2 separate regions of the Homo sapiens genome follow, and region 2 is linked to region 1. Evidence: fine-mapped expression QTL. Tissue or cell type: whole blood. Region 1 holds a variant in brackets; the other region holds the start of a gene. All regions are shown on one strand. Distances are from middle to middle.

Evidence for each region. PIP is the estimated chance that this variant, and not a neighbour inherited with it, causes the effect.
Region 2: it holds the start of SKAP2, and the variant in region 1 is fine-mapped to the expression of SKAP2 in whole blood (INTERVAL, PIP above 0.99).

What each region holds. Positions count from the first base shown.
Region 1 is chr7:26,899,666-26,907,774 of GRCh38, forward strand. No RefSeq gene overlaps it. Among named protein-coding and RNA genes, the nearest start is that of SKAP2, 39 kb to the left of the region's middle. The variant C/T (reference allele first, on the strand shown) is at 3,482.
Region 2 is chr7:26,859,619-26,867,710 of GRCh38, forward strand. SKAP2 (src kinase associated phosphoprotein 2) reads right to left here and starts at 4,972. Exons shown (of 13, transcript NM_003930.5): 1 at 4,745-4,972. The coding sequence starts at 4,811. RefSeq lists an enhancer at 5,210-5,539.

The DNA of each region.
Region 1 (8,109 bases):
TCCACTAGGCATCATCCCATTTATAATTTCAACTAATCTCTACTAAACATTTAACTGGCAATGAGCCAATTAATGCATTACATTTTAAAGTTAATTTTTATTTTTATCAAAGTAATACATGTACATAATTTTAAAAATAAAACATGAGAAAAAAGCAGTCCCCAAGCCAAACTCCCCTTCAGCTCCTATTCCTGATTCCTTATGGTAACCACTTTTAATTTTTTTTTAGCTATTTCTTTTGATGTTTACATCCATTTTCTAATAATGTGGTTATACAGTTATTTCTTGATTTTTGAATTTTAAACATTATTTAATTTACTTCATTCTATGGAATATGGGTTACCTCTTTTAATATAACCCCCCGCCTGACACACACACCCAAAACACATACATATTTCCCCTTCTCCATCTTTCCAACATAATTATGGCATCCATTTGGGCTAAATCCACAATTAAAGCTTATATAACTATGAATCTATTAACATTATTTACATCTCAGTTTTGGAGTATATTGTAATTACATTTCTTACACAACTTTATTTCCCAAGAGTTTATATTTGTGTCTATTATTTTTGGTTGCTTGATTTTCTACATAGCTGTCATAAACTCATTCTCAAATGCTCCATTGGACTGAAAACTCTTCTCAAGATAGTCAAACACTTCATGCAATCTATCAGCTTAATCTGTTTCTTGGAGACATCCATATGGACTTTCCTGTCCTTCTATTAAATTCTGGACTGTTTTCTAGGATGCTGGATATCTGCCATTATGGGGCTTTCCTTTGCCAGCATCCTGGCAAAGATCCAGATCCTTTGCCTCTCTCCTGTATTAGATCCCTTGTCTTTTCTATTCCATGACTTCCTCTTTCTGATTTTACTTCTTCATCTTAATGGAACATATCTTCCCACACTTTCTTGAAAAAATGGTACAAGGGCAGTAACTTTGTTGAGACTTTACATATCTGAAAACACATTTACCCTCATATTTAGATAGGTATAGAGTTTTATTTTGCTAAGTATTTTTTCTCAGAAATTTAATAGCATTTCTCCATGTTTTCTAGTTTTTGTTAATTTGTTTTCTTTTCTTTTATTTTTTGTTTGTTTGTTTTTAGAGATGGGGTCTTGTTCTGTCACCCAGGCTGGAGTGCAGGGGGTGCAATCAGCTCCCGACAGCCTCGAACTCCTGGGATCAAACAATCCTCCTGCCTCAGCCTCCCAAGTAGCTGGGGCTTAGTTTTTTATTATTTGATAATCCAAAAGAGTGAACATCAGTATAGTCAGTGGCAGAGCTAGGCTTCCAGCCTATATCTAATTCCAAGCCCAGGAATATTCTTCTCCTATGATATCCAGCCTTTGTATACTAAAGTATGAAGTTATAAATTTGAAATATTTCCAGCAGTAGCTGCAATTTGATAAGGGACTCATTTGCAGACCTAAAGCTTGAGTCGAAGAAGCAAAGTTATGATGGTAAAACAAGATATGTAGTTAAATTGAGGGTCAGGACCCCTGAAACCACAGGATATAACTGGTCTTCTATTTCTATTAAACGTGTCAAGTTGGTAGCATTCCCCAAAGTTTCTTGGGACTCCAGAAATTGCATGTTGGGAGATAATTCTCCATGGGTCTCTCACATTTCTGCACGTCTTACAAGCAGAAACATTGACTGCCTCTGTTCCAGACTATTGTTTCAAGCCATCATCTATGGGTGGTACAGGTAGTGTTTTGCTCTGAAGCAAAGGGCAAGTTTGCCTTCAGCTCTGGAATATAGAGACAGTGTCTCCTAGGGCAAAAGACAGACATGCTTATGGCCCATTATAAATGATTTGGGTTCTCTGAACTCAGGGTTCTTCATTTATAATACTCCCCGTTGCATGTGCAAATATCACCTGCTCCTCTTTACATTGCCAGGCAGTATTTGAGGTTTAAGGGGCTGGTATAAATGCTGATATTCTGTCTACTGTTAATGCTATAAGTAATAAACTGTCCTTGGTTTATTATATAACCAAGGAGTATATATAACCCAGGAGTATTATATCTTCTGCCAGCACCCATGAAACTGACAGGCTAACTTAGCTTGCAAATAGGATACAATTTCAGGCCCTTTTCAGCTTTTGAGACATATAATCAAAATATATAGAAAAACAATTCAGGGAGTATATAGATTAAAAAGAGTTTCCTATTTAAAAAAAAAATTTTTTTGGCTTGGGAATACAAAATTAAAACCAAACCACAGTCTAGAAGTCCAATATACTTGAAATTTGGCTTCAACAAGTTAAATATTTTTCCAATGCACCTAAAGTGCTTAGGTGTTCCTTATTAGTATTTGATATTTCTATGACCAAACATTCTCTGTTTACTTTTAAAGAGCTTCCACAAAATTTTTATCCTGTAAGATACAACTATTTGGGGCCGGGCGCAGTGGTTCACGCCTGTAATCCTAGCACTTTGGGAGGCCGAGGCAGGCGGACTGCCGGAGCTCAGGAGTTCGAGACCAGCCTGGGCAACACAGTGAAACCCCATCTCTACTAAAAATACAAAAAATTAGCCAGGCGTGGCTGCGTACACCTGTAGTTCCAGCTACTGGGAAGGCTGAAGCAGGAGAATTGCTTGAACCCAGGAGGCGGAGGTTGCCATGAGCCGAGATGGCGCCACTGCACTCCAGCCTGGGCTACAGTGCAAGACTCCATCTCCAAAAAAAGAAAAGAAAAGGAAAGAGAAAAGATACAACTATTTGGGAGGTAGGTGGGAAAAGGCTCCTTTACGATTAACTAAAGACTTCAAGGTCTATTTCAATTATTCTTATAGACCCAAAACCCAGTAGAATATCTCAAATGTCTTAGAAATCCTTAACTTAAAGGATAATATAAGGAATGTCTTTTGAATGCATGGCCTGTATTCATTTCTACTTACAGCATCATTAGCAACATCAGTGAATACGCTGAAGACTGTGAACTCTGACCTCGTAAAGTAGTACATGTGCAGCATTACTGCAGGTTAATCTTCATTATCACTGTCACTCTTTAAATACCCAGACAAGACATAGTGTCAAGAAGAAAGCATCTGTTTGTCATCATGCAACATGTAGTCCTGACCACATGAGAAAGAACAATCCAGAGCCTCCCATATATGAGAGGAAGTCTCTGGAACACAGTAACTCTAAAAAATTCATTCATTGGGCTGTTACCTCCCAAGGTCATCCTGGTGCAAAGGTCACCTAAAAAAACTATGGGAAGGTTCTGGGATGAACGAAAACAGCACAATGTTGAATTTATGCCACAGCTGTGATAAAGGGAAAAGAACATAGATTGTAGATTCAGGAAAATGCTATTCAAATTCTGGTTCCACTCTGAGCAGTCATGAAACTTTGGGTATATTTTTTTACCTTCTCTGAGCTCAAATTCCTTATGTAAAAATTGTGATACTATTATATGAACTGTGATAAAACCTGACAAGACTGTTTTGAGGATTACAATATAATGTTA[C/T]GTGCAAAATGTCTGACACATAATGAACTCCTAATAGGTATTTGTTGAATCTAAACTGCAGAGAAGGCCCTGAGCAGTGCTAGGCCTTACAGATTGACATGATACAGAATCCTCAGACCCATTAAAAACTTGATGAGCAGGGCACAGTGGCTCACGCCTGTAATCCCAACACTTTGGGAAGCCGAGATGGGTGGATCACCTGAGGTTGGGAGTTCGAGACCATCCTGACCAACATGGAGAAATCCCATCTCTACTAAAAATACAAAATTAGCCAGGTGTGATGGCACATGCCTGTAATCCCAGCTATTTGGGAGGCTGAGGCAGGAGAATCGCTTGAACCTGAGAGGTGGAGGTTGTGGTGAGCCAAGATGGCACCACTGCACTCCAACCTGGGCAACAAGAGCAGAACTCCATCTCAAAAAAACAAAAACAAAACAAAACGAAACAAAACGCCTGATGAAGCCGGGCTCAGTGGCTCACGCCTGTGATCCTAGCACTTTGGGAGGCTGTGGTGGGCGGTCAGGAGTTTGAGACCAGCCTGGCCAACACGGAAAAACCCCATCTCTACTAAAAATACAAAAACTAACCAGGCATGGTGGCAGGTGCCTGTAATCTCAGCTACTCAGGAGGCCGAGGCTGGAGAATCACTCGAACCCAGGAGGTGGAGGTTGCAGTGAGCCTAGATTATGCCACTACACTCCAGTGTGGGCGACAAGAGCAAAACTCCATCTCAAAAACAAAACAAAACAAAATAACACCACATATCTACAACTATCTGATCTTTGACAAACCTGAGAAAAACAAGCAATGGGGAAAGGATTCCCTATTTAATAAATGGTGCTGGGAAAACTGGCTAGCCATATGTAGAAAGCTGAAACTGGATCCCTTCCTTACACCTTATACAAAAATAAATTCAAGATGGATTAAAGACTTAAACATTAGACCTAAAACCATAAAAACCCTAGAAGAAAACCTAGGCAATACCATTCAGGACATACGCATGGGCAAGGACTTCATGTCTAAAACACCAAAAGCAATGGCAACAAAAGACAACATTGACAAATGGGATCTAATTAAACTAAAGAGCTTCTGCACAGCAAAAGAAACTACCATCAGAGTGAACAGGCAACCCACAAAATGGGAGAAAATTTTTGCAACCTACTCATCTGACAAAGGGCTAATATCCAGAATCTACAATGAACTCAAACAAATTTACAAGAAAAAAAAACCCCATCAAAAAGTGGGCGAAGGACATGAACAGACACTTCTCAAAAGAAGACATTTATGCAGCCAAAAAACACATGAAAAAATGCTCACCATCACTGGCCATCAGAGAAATGCAAATCAAAACCAAATGGCAATCATTAAAAAGTCAGGAAACAACAGGTGCTGGAGAGGATGTGGAGAAATAGGAACACTTTTACACTGTTGGTGGGACTGTAAACTAGTTCAACCATTGTGGATGTCAGTGTGGCGATTCCTCAGGGATCTAGAACTAGAAATACCATTTGACCCAGCCATCCCATTATTGGGTATATACCCAAAGGACTATAAATCATGCTGCTATAAAGACACATGCACACATATGTTTATTGCGGCACTATTCACAATAGCAAAGACTTGGAACCAACCCAAATGTCCAACAATGATAGACTGGATTAAGAAAATGTGGCACATATACACCATGGAATACTATGCAGCCATAAAAAATGATGAGATCATGTCCTTTGTAGGGACATGGATGAAATTGGAAATCATCATTCTCAGTAAACTATCGCAAGAACAAAAAACCAAACACCACATATTCTCACTCATAGGTGGGAAGTGAACAATGAGAACACATGGACACAGGAAGGGGAACATCACACTCTGGGTACTGTTGTGGGGTGGGGGGAGGGGGGAGGGATAGCATTGGGAGATATACCTAATGCTAGATGACGAGTTAGTGGGTGCAGTGCACCAGCATGGCACATGTATACATATGTAACTAACCTGCACATTGTGCACATGTGCCCTAAAACTTAAAGTATAATAATAAAAAAAAATTTAAAAAAAACAACAAAAAACCTGATTGCATGACTTTGCCTACTTAAAATGAGTCTATTTTTTCCTTATGTTAGGTAAAGTGCTCAGCACCTTCAGTAAACAAGCATCAGTCAGCTCTAGACAAAACAAAAAAACTTTATAGCTGAGCTAGGGTTAACCTTATTTCTGAAATTATTACATTAAGATAAAGGTGAAAATAGATGGATTTATACCTGCTAATAGAGAGTCTGAACGCCAAATAGGAAATTTGGGCTTTATTCCATAAGCAATAATGACAGCTTAAGAAAAACTATTCTGATAGCAATACATGAAATGGTTTGGTGGTAGTCAAAAAATAAAGTAAGAAAGATCAAGGCCAGACACTGTGACTCGTGCCTGTAATCCCAGAATTTTGGGAGGCTGAGGAGGAAGGATCACTTGAAGCTAGGAGTTCAAGACCAGCCTGGGCAACATAGCAAGACCTGTGTCACTCAAAAAAAAGAAAAAAAAATTAGCCGGGCATGGTGGTGCATGCCTATAGTCCTAGCTACTTTGAGAAGCTGAGGTGGGAGAAATGCTTAAGCCCAGGAGTTCAAGGTTACTGCGAGCTATGATCACACTACTACATTCCAGCCTGAGTGATGGAACAAAACCCTGTCTCTGCCAAAAAAAAAAAAAAAAAAGGGAAACAAAGAAGGAAGGAAGGAAGGGAAGGAAAGAAAGAAAGAAAAAAAGAAACATCAGTAAGAAGGAAATTTAAGTATTCTAGATCAGAGGCATCAGGCATTCAAGGAATGTTGGTAGTATTCACGTATCTGATATGAAGTCAAAAAAACCTCTTACTGGCTGTAAACTGCTCATGGAAAATGAGTAAATAGTTTACCCTTCAGATGATAGTGAGTTTATCATACATCAGTCCTAGTAACTACTTAACAAAATAATTTCTTCAGGTAGTTAGGTTGATTTTTTTACATATCATTCTTAATAATAACATGGATATAAAAATACATCTTGGTTTCAACAGACACTTTTGTATAAAATTTATTTATTCTAACATAAACTCTTCATTTTTGAGGGAGGAACATAGAAAAGTTATCTTGAAATGATAAGATATGAATTTGAGAGTTCAGTGAAACAATGTCAAACTTTTGGTTGAAGCTTTCAGTTTATAAACATGTTAAGTTTTTTTATATGATCAGTATAGGAAATGGGCATTGACACTGAGTACTCTATTACAGGGCTGTATGAATGCAGAAGGCTCACAAGTTGAAGGAAATTGTAGCTAATATTTCAGGTTATTCAGGGCAGAAGAAATCATCTCATTATTTGTGTTCCATTTATGACTGGAAACTCATCCTCTCAAATATTGCCATGATTTTCAGCAAGCAAGATCATTTAGGTTTACCATCTCGGGGGCTATTATGAAATATTGGGTGGACATTACTGGGTTCATGTACTTGTTTACTTCTTTCATTTTTCTCTTTGCTGACCAAAGGAAATTACAAACCATTATGTGCAACTGTGTATCATTACAGATTTATGAGAGAATAAATGGCTCCTCTGACAGATTTAAGAATGCAAAAGCCTTAAGGAGATACTTTCCTCAAAATATAATTCCATTTCCCACTCCCAAAATTGATCTCTCTCAAACTCCCTTCTCCTCTGGAACTGCTACTCCCAGTGCAGAGAAAACAGAACATATATATGTATATATGTGTGTGTGTGTGTGTGTGTGTGTACATATACATATATATATGTACACACACACATTATATATATATATAATTTGAAATTTCATTCACTCTACTATAGTCAATTCTTCAAGTTCATAGTTGTATTCAGTATTCATCTTAATGGCAAGATCAATCTTATGGAAAATATCAGTTCTGTAATAATAAAGAAAGGAGTATAAAAGCTTGTGAGTGGTAAACCATGCCCCTCAAAGTATAACAGTTTTAACTCAACTAGAACTCAAATAATGAAGGCTAAGAACTAAGACTAAGACTTAATTCCAAGACTAATAATTCTATACTCAATGATTTTGAGTATGGAATTCTCAAATAAAAGGAAGAGTTAAACTCACCATAAAGATCCAAAGAAACATAGTTTGATGAAGTCATGAACAACTATTATGCCAAATGCACAGTATTAGTAAATCTTCACACAGTCTTGATTAGGTAGCATAATAAGAAAGTCAATGATTGGTAAGGTAACCAATCAAGCTGTTAATAAAGTGAATTCCCCTCAGTACTAGAATAAAGAAGATAAGCAAAACTGAAGTGAAAAGAAAAGAATTGTGGTAGACTGTGAAAGGTGGCCCACAAATTTGCATATGTGACTTTGTACCACGATGACTTTGTGCACTATGAGTTTGTACCATATGGATGAGCCTGAACTAGCCCTACTAATGATGATAGATACATGGCTATCACTTCACCAGACATAGAACAATCACCAGACATGTGTGGAACCATCCTAGACAATCTAGCTATCTTTTTTGATGGAAGAAATACACAGTCAACCCACAAAACTGTGAGAAATAATAGATATTATTATAATTCACAAAGCTTTGGATAGTTTATTATGGTGCAAAAGCTAACTGA
Region 2 (8,092 bases), 40 kb before region 1:
TGATGTATTTTGATAGAAAGCTGGGCTGTTTAAAGGTAGGGCTGAACATCTTTCAACCCTAAAAGATGACTCTTGATAAATAGCACCTTACAATAATCAAAATCTTTTTACTACATATTTTCAAAGAAGCCACAGTGAATAACACATTAGTCTGAGATTTACACTATATTCAGTTTTAGGCAGCATCTATTGTAATGTGTTCAGAATGTGATTGAAAAAGAAATGTAAATTCAGTGGAATGAAAAAGAGACTTAGCTTTAATTGAAAAAGACAAACTAAGTGAATCATGAGTATATAAAATCTAGCCTATGCCACTTTTATCACCCATATATGACACTTAATCTGAAATTTATGAGACAACTAAACTGTGTTTCAAATCACCAGCAGCTTTTCCTACTCTGTTGTGTCTACCTTCTTTCTAGTAATACTTTAATGCTGGTAACAGGAGCAATAAGCCCATTTGCAAATTTTTCATATAATGCTAATTTTTTAATATGTTTAGATTCTTCTTTTTGAAGAAAACCAATGATAATTTGGATTGGGTAGCTATAAAAACTGTACGTAGTATCAAGAGCCTTATATAGTAATGAGATGAAAATACTTTCAATGGACAGCCATGCCAAAAGATCTCCTCCCAAGAAAAAGCAGGACATTATATACTTAAAATAGGCAAATAATTTTCCTAACACCACATCTTAATTCATCTATATTATTTAGCCCATACAAAAAACTCTGTAAACCTCTAGTCCCTTAATTTACATATATTCCTATTTCTAGAAAAGAATATCTTGGAGGTACGATAGATTTCATTTTGAGATTAAATGTTCTCATATCAACTTTATGCTCTTTAGTGATTGCTGCCCAAATGGGGCAGGCTTGTTCTTGCTCCATAGGAAAACCCAGGTGCTAAGGAGGTAGGTGACTATTGGTGACTCAGTAGGTGGCACTCTTCCCTTTACATACTCAGCCAATGTCCCAGAAGGAAGTTATGGGACACTAGATACACCATAAATAATTCTCATAGGAAAAATAAAACCAAAATGTTGACCAAATTATAAATGGAACTTTGGAAAGGTGGAAATTAAACCGTAATATACTCAGCATTGAAAAAATTCTGCCTCTATTTCAAATAAATTGCACTCTTCACCTAGTGCCCCTACAGGAATCCCTTTAGGGGACTGATTACATACCCTAAATAATATTGTGTGAAAAAAATATTCACACATTATAATCAATGTGTGGGAAAAAATTTTCTAATGTTCTAAAAATTCCCAGTAGGGAAAATGTGGTATTTCTAATCAAGAGTGCCATGTGAACAAAACCTCAAGATCACTTATTTATTGTTTGTTTGGTTTGGTTTGATTTTTCAGAGCACTAACAATCACTATTTTCTTCTTTTAACAATGGTTTCATTTGCTAATTTAGTAAACAGAAAATAACATCTTCTTAGAGCTTTCCTTTTAAAATTTGTTGTCCTAAAACAAATGAATGAGGATGAATGAGAAGGTCTGATTGCAAGCCACTAACAAACCATTATTTAAAGGGTGATTAAACAAATGAAGGAGGCTGGAGGGAAGTGGTTCTAGTTCCTCTTACTTTCTTGCCTGTCTAGAGAAAAAAAAAAATCACATAAATCAAGATTATTCTTGCTGCTAGTCCTAGTCAAAATATTTGGATGTGAGAGAAGATTAAATGGACAAGATTTGGGATTGTCCTTTGATTTCAATTATCCAGGCTAAACCTGTTTTTCCATTGTTGTAGAAAAGAAAAAAATCAAAGGTTGCCTGTAATGCATATGGCAGCTCAAAATTTGCTTTCAACAACGAAATTCTGTAAGTCCTTTTCTGTTCATATAACCAAAAGAATAATCAACATTTTATAAAAAGCATAGGTCTTCAAGACTGACTCCACAGAAAATATAACTAAAAATCAAACTAGATAGCCACTTTTTCAATGGTATCTTTACACAACACATGTGAGTTAACAATAACAACCTCTTTTTTTTTTTTTTTTTTTTTTTACATTTCTATGGAATGGTTTTTATAGGGGAAGGAAAAAGGGAGAGGGAACAAATGTTGAAAGTATAGCATAGAACTGCCATAATCAGACAGAAAAATAAAGAGAAAGAAAAATAATAAATAAGAATACACTTGAGTACCTATCCCTTTTAAGCAGGTGAAATTTCAAACAGTACATATGACATATAATGATTTAGTTTAATAGGCATATGGAACACAAACAGATACATCTAAGCAACATTATTTTAACAGTCATTATCTTTTGATTATATATTCTTCTTTCTAAAAACAAAGGACTTTAAACCCCTGAAAAGTTTAGTTCCTTATCTTCTCTACCTTGGAATTCTAGCATAGTACCATGCATTCTAAGAGCACTCAACTGTTAACTACAACACCATTACCAATATCTCCTCAGTTTCAAAGAAATAGACTAAATAAGCCAGCAATATCTCTAATATTCAAACCAATATAAATACTTCTATAATGTTACTCTAAATCTAGTCATATACTATTACCCAATACACTTGAATTATGAAAAGAATCATGTACAATGCTAACAATATTTTTAGATGAAATACATGAAACAATTGCTGACAGCATCTATTCTTGAAGCGTTCTCTACCTCAAAAAAGATTTTAATTACAGTCAAACATAAAATGTTAGCAACTTTCCAAATAAGTTTTTTTAAAACCTGAAAAACACTGATTTGTTAAATTTCTTTAAACATAAATACGCCCCAACTCACTTCCATACTTCTTGAAAATATCCTCTGAAAATAAAGTGTAATCCAAATTTCCAATTCCAAAAGTTTTAATTGTAATATTTTTTAATACTTCATGTGTGTTTTAATATGTGATTTGCTTTAATAATATAAAATAGTGAAAATGTCAATAAAATGACTTAAAATAATTTCAGATGCTATGCTAGTATATTACCTGACTAAAGAGAGAAGGCAGAAATATATTGGAAGTTAGCATTGGCAGATAATTTAAATATGTAATTTTGAGTTTTTAGTTAAATTACACAAATAAGGGCCACAGGAAATACTTGTGATCTATGGGGATAAGAGAATAAAGGTTCTCATGACCTACATATCATATTATCTGTGATTTATGATTATGGATCCAAATAACAAACTGTACTATGGGAGGTACCAAGCTTTAAAACATGCACCCAGAGGTCTATATGTTATTTCTTAAATTCAAAAATACAGACATAGAATATCCTGAAAATGGTTTCATCTATTTTTGGAATAATGATAAACATTTTTCTGCGCTGGTTATTACAATAATATTCTGAACAAACAATTCCAGCATTGTAAAAACAAAAAATGTTAAGTGTAGTAAAACAAAATCAGTAGTCATGTGATGCAATAAAGCTGCCTGAAGTCAGTCTTTAGACTTCTTTAACTATTTCCCTTAGTGGTACCCGTTAATGACAACAAGCATTTCTTAGAGTGAAAGACTATCCCACCACAAATGCATTCAACATACTGTACCATAATCATACAAACATAAGTCTACATTCATACACTTAATATTACACTACCATATTAATAATGCCAAGCACCAAAATTGAATGACAGAATATTAGGAGATTTGGACTCACATTGCTATAGGAGTAACATATAAAATGTGTCATCAAATGTCACATTTTAGATGACATTGCTTTTTAAGAGCTAGAATAAGCAATCTGTAATCTAGTTATTCATAAGCAATACTGAGAGATAAATATTTTATAGACATCTAAAACTAAAAATCAAAATTCAGTTTCCAGAATTCTGACGTACACAAGACAAAATAAATGATGGTTGAAATTCCAGAACATTGAGATAGGTAAGATTTGTGCTACCTTAAAAACATATATTTTCTACCTTGTACAGAAATATAAATTATTGGTTCTTAGTGAACATACACACCTCCGTATCCAGTAAATTAATGAACTAGTAGTGGATTCATAATGCTACTGAAGAACCACGTTTTTAGCTCCTAAAATAAGTTCCTATAAATGGTAATGTAAAACTGAAAAAGGGAAGATAAGGGTACAAAGATGAAGTACTTTCATCGTGTCACACAGGAAGTAGAACTTTAACATATCCTTCCTTTTTTGCTTTAATATATTACTGAGGCTGGGGACAAGTGGCCATTTGAGAACCAGACCTTCTTCAAAAGTCTTAAACGTGAGTGAGCTGAATGTTTAAGAAAAACGGGAGTTTTAGAAATGACAAACTCTTTCACCCCATAACCCCTAACACCTGTGGCTCTGACAGCTCTTTGCATCTCTACATCCTCTACCTCCATTGGCCAGACCACCCAAGAACTACTTATTTGACTTCTGCTCCCTTCTGCTTGCTCACGCAGCATTCATTATCATTATCATTCTCTCTCCCTCTTCCACTCTTCCTCCCCCGCCCTTCTGTCACACACACACACACACACACACACACACCGTCTTCACAATGCACATAGAAACGTCCTGATCCCATTTGTGTAGATCACCAAAAAGGGCTTCGCCACCATCCCCGCACCAAATTTCAACACACACGTCCACTCCCTTTCTGAGACAAAACAACCCCTCTCCTCTCCTCCCTGTGCCGACCCCACTGGCTAGAAGACGTGGGAAGCGCGGGGAGGGAGGATAAGGGCTCTGAATGCTTCTGTCCCCACCGGCTCACCGTTCCCTCGCCCCCGCCCCGACAGCATTATCGCCGCCTTCCCGCTCTTTACCTGCCAACAGGTTCCTAATTTCCTCAGGGAGGGGGTAGGGAGAGGAGGTGCTGCTGGGGTTGGGCATGTTAGGGAGCGCAGGGCGTGCGGGGAAAGGACCTGCGCTGAAAAGGTGACCGACGGGGTGGGGCTGCGGCTGCGACCTAGACTCAGGCTAGCGGCCCGGATTAAGAACAGCGGGGCTACGAGTCGGGACACTGCCGGGCCGGGGCTCACAACAAGGAAGTCACTGAATCTCCAGCGAGCTGCAGCTGGACTGTCGGCCCAGCCCCGCCCAGAGGGCCGGGGCGGGGAGATGGGTGGGAAGGGACACGAAGGGCCTGAGGGGTCCAACTGCGCATGTGTATTCCTCGGTTTTCCCGGCCCCAGAAGAAAGAGCCTGTGGGCAAGCCACGCCCACCGCTACGCCGGGAAGCAGGAGGAGGAGCCACTGGTGGGAAGGGGGCGGACTGAGGCTGCGTCACCTGATGCTGCGTCACCTGATCCAGCGTCCGGAGCGCCTTACAGCCATTTTCGGTACTGGTGCCATCACAACTGCTGATCGTTTCTGCAGGATTCCAGAAAATAATGTATCCATGATACAGAGTGTATACAAGTTTTGCGATTACGCCTTCTGCGTAACAGTCAGTCCCACCGCAGTTTAACCCACAAGGAATTTTCTCTTGTCCTAAACTATTATGGCCTTCTTTGTCCGATTGAACGGAGGTAACGAAGTCTCGTCTTCCGCCAGTCGTCCGGGCGAAGCCAGTCTGGAGCCGCTCCGGAGCGCGCGTTGTGATTGGCTCTTACATTACTTTTCTACCTAATTCGTATCCTTGGGGTGACAGATTTTCCCCACTACAAGGAAGACTGGGAAGTTCTAAGCACCGTCCTTTGGCAGGAAAAAACAAACAAAACAAAACAAAAAAACAGAAGGCCGAATAGACATTGGCACCACTGTCCATCTACAAGCATCAAAAATAAAATTGCTGGTGGTGGTTAGTAGAATAAAATTATAAAATCTGCTCACTCCAACTTGACCATTTAGTCAACAAATACTTACTGTCTTCTATCTGTAAAGCTTCTTAAAAGTTTTCTCTTTTAAAAAAAATGGCTTCTTTAAAACCTTTAACAGGCATACATCTTTGTGCTTCCCAGATATTGCATTTTTTAACAAATTGAAGGTTTGTGGCAACCCTGCATCAAGCAAATCTGTGGGCGCCATTTTTCCAAAAGCATGTGCTCAGTTCATGTCTCTGTCACATTTTGGTGATTCTAACAATATTTCAAACTTTTTCATTATTATTGTATATGTTATGGTGATCTTTGAAGTTACTATTATAATTACTTTGGGACATCACAAACAGCACCCATATAAGACAGCGACTGTAATCCATAAATGTGTGTGTTCTGACTGCTCTACCAACCCTATACCTTCCTCCATATCTCTCCCTCTCTTGGGCCTCCCCATTCCTTGAGACACAACAATATTGACATTAAGCCAATTAATAACCCTACGATGGCCTCTGAGTGTTCCAGTAAAAGAATCATTTTACTTTAAATCAAAAGCTTACTTTAAATCAAAAGCTAGAAATGATTAAGCTTAGTGAGGAAGGCATATTGAAAGCCGAGACAGACCAAAAGCTAGGGCTCTTGCACCAAACAGCCAGGTAGTGAATGCAAGGGAAAAGTCCTTGAAGGAAAGTAAAAATGCTACTCCAGTGAACACACGAATGATAAGAAAGCGAAGGAGGCTTATTGCTGGTAAAGAAACGTTTTCATGTTCTGGATAGAAGATCAAACCAGACATAACATTCCCTTAAGCCAACGCCTAATCGAGTGCAAGGCCCTAACTCTCTTCAAGTCTACGAAGGCTGAGAGGTAAAGAAGCTGCAGAAGAAAAGTTGGAAGTTAGCAGAGGTTGGTTCATGATGTTTAAGGAAATAAGCCATCTTCAGAGCATAAAATTGTAAGGTGAAGCAGCAAATGCTGGTGAAGCAGCTGCAGCAAGTTATCAAAAAGATCTAGCTAAGGCCAGGTGCAGTGGCTCATGCCTGTAATCCTAGCACTTTGGGAGGATGAGGCGGGCGGATCATGAGGTCAGGAGATCGGGACCATCCTGGCTAACACAGTGAAACCCCGTCTCTACTAAAAAAAAGATACAAAAAAAAAAGAAAATTAGCCGGGTGTGGTGGCAGGCGCCTGTAGTCCCAGCTACTCGGGAGGCTGAGGCAGGAGAATGGCGTGAACCCAGGAGGCAGAGTTTGCAGTGAGCCAAGATTGCGCCACTATACTCCAGCCTGGGCGACAGAGCGAGACTCCATCTCAAAAAAAAAAAAAAAAAAAAAAAAATCTAGCTAAGATATCTGATGAAGGTGGCTATACTAAACAAAGAGTTTCAGTGTAGATGAAACAACACTTATTGGAAAACAATGCCATCTAGGACTTTCGTAGCTATAGAGTAGAAGTCAATGCCTGGCTTCAAAGCTTCAAAGGACAGGCTGATTCTCTTCTTAGGAACTATTTCAGCTGCTGACTTTAAGTTGAAGCCAATGCTCATTTACCATTCTGAAAATCCTAGGGCCCTTAAGGATTATGATAAATCTACTCTGCCTGTGCTCTATAAGTGGAACAACAAAGCCTGGATGACAGCACATCTGTTTACAGAATGATTTACTGAGTATTTTAAGCACACTGTTGAGATCTACTGCTCAGAAAAAAAGATGCCTTTCAAAATATTGCTGCTTATTGACAATGCACCTGGTCACCCAAGAGCTCTGATGGAGATATACAAGAAGATTAATGTTTTCATGCCTGCTAGTACCACATCCATTCTGCTGCCCATGGATCAAAGAGTAGTTTCAACTTTCAAGTCTTATTTAAAAAATACATTTCATGGCTGGCCATGGTGGGTTACACCTGTAATCCCAGCACTTTGGGAGGCTGAGGCAGGAGGATCACTTGAGGCCAAGAGTTCAAGACCAGCCTGGGCAACATAGTGGCACCCCATCTCTACAAAAAAAAAAAAAAAAAAAAAAAAAAAAAGAATAATTAGCCAGGTGTGGTGGTGTGTGCCTGTAGTCCTAGCTACTCATGAAGGTGAGATGTAAGGATCCCTTGGGCCCAGGAGTTCAAGATTACAGGGAGGTATGACTGTGCCAGTGAACTCCAGCTTGGGCCACAAATGAGACCCTATCTTAAAAAAAAAAAAAAATATATATATATATATATACACACATATATATACATATATATACATATATATATACACACATATATATATACATATATATACATATATATACCTATATATACATATATATATACATATATATATATATTATATGGCTATAGTTGCCATAGATAGTC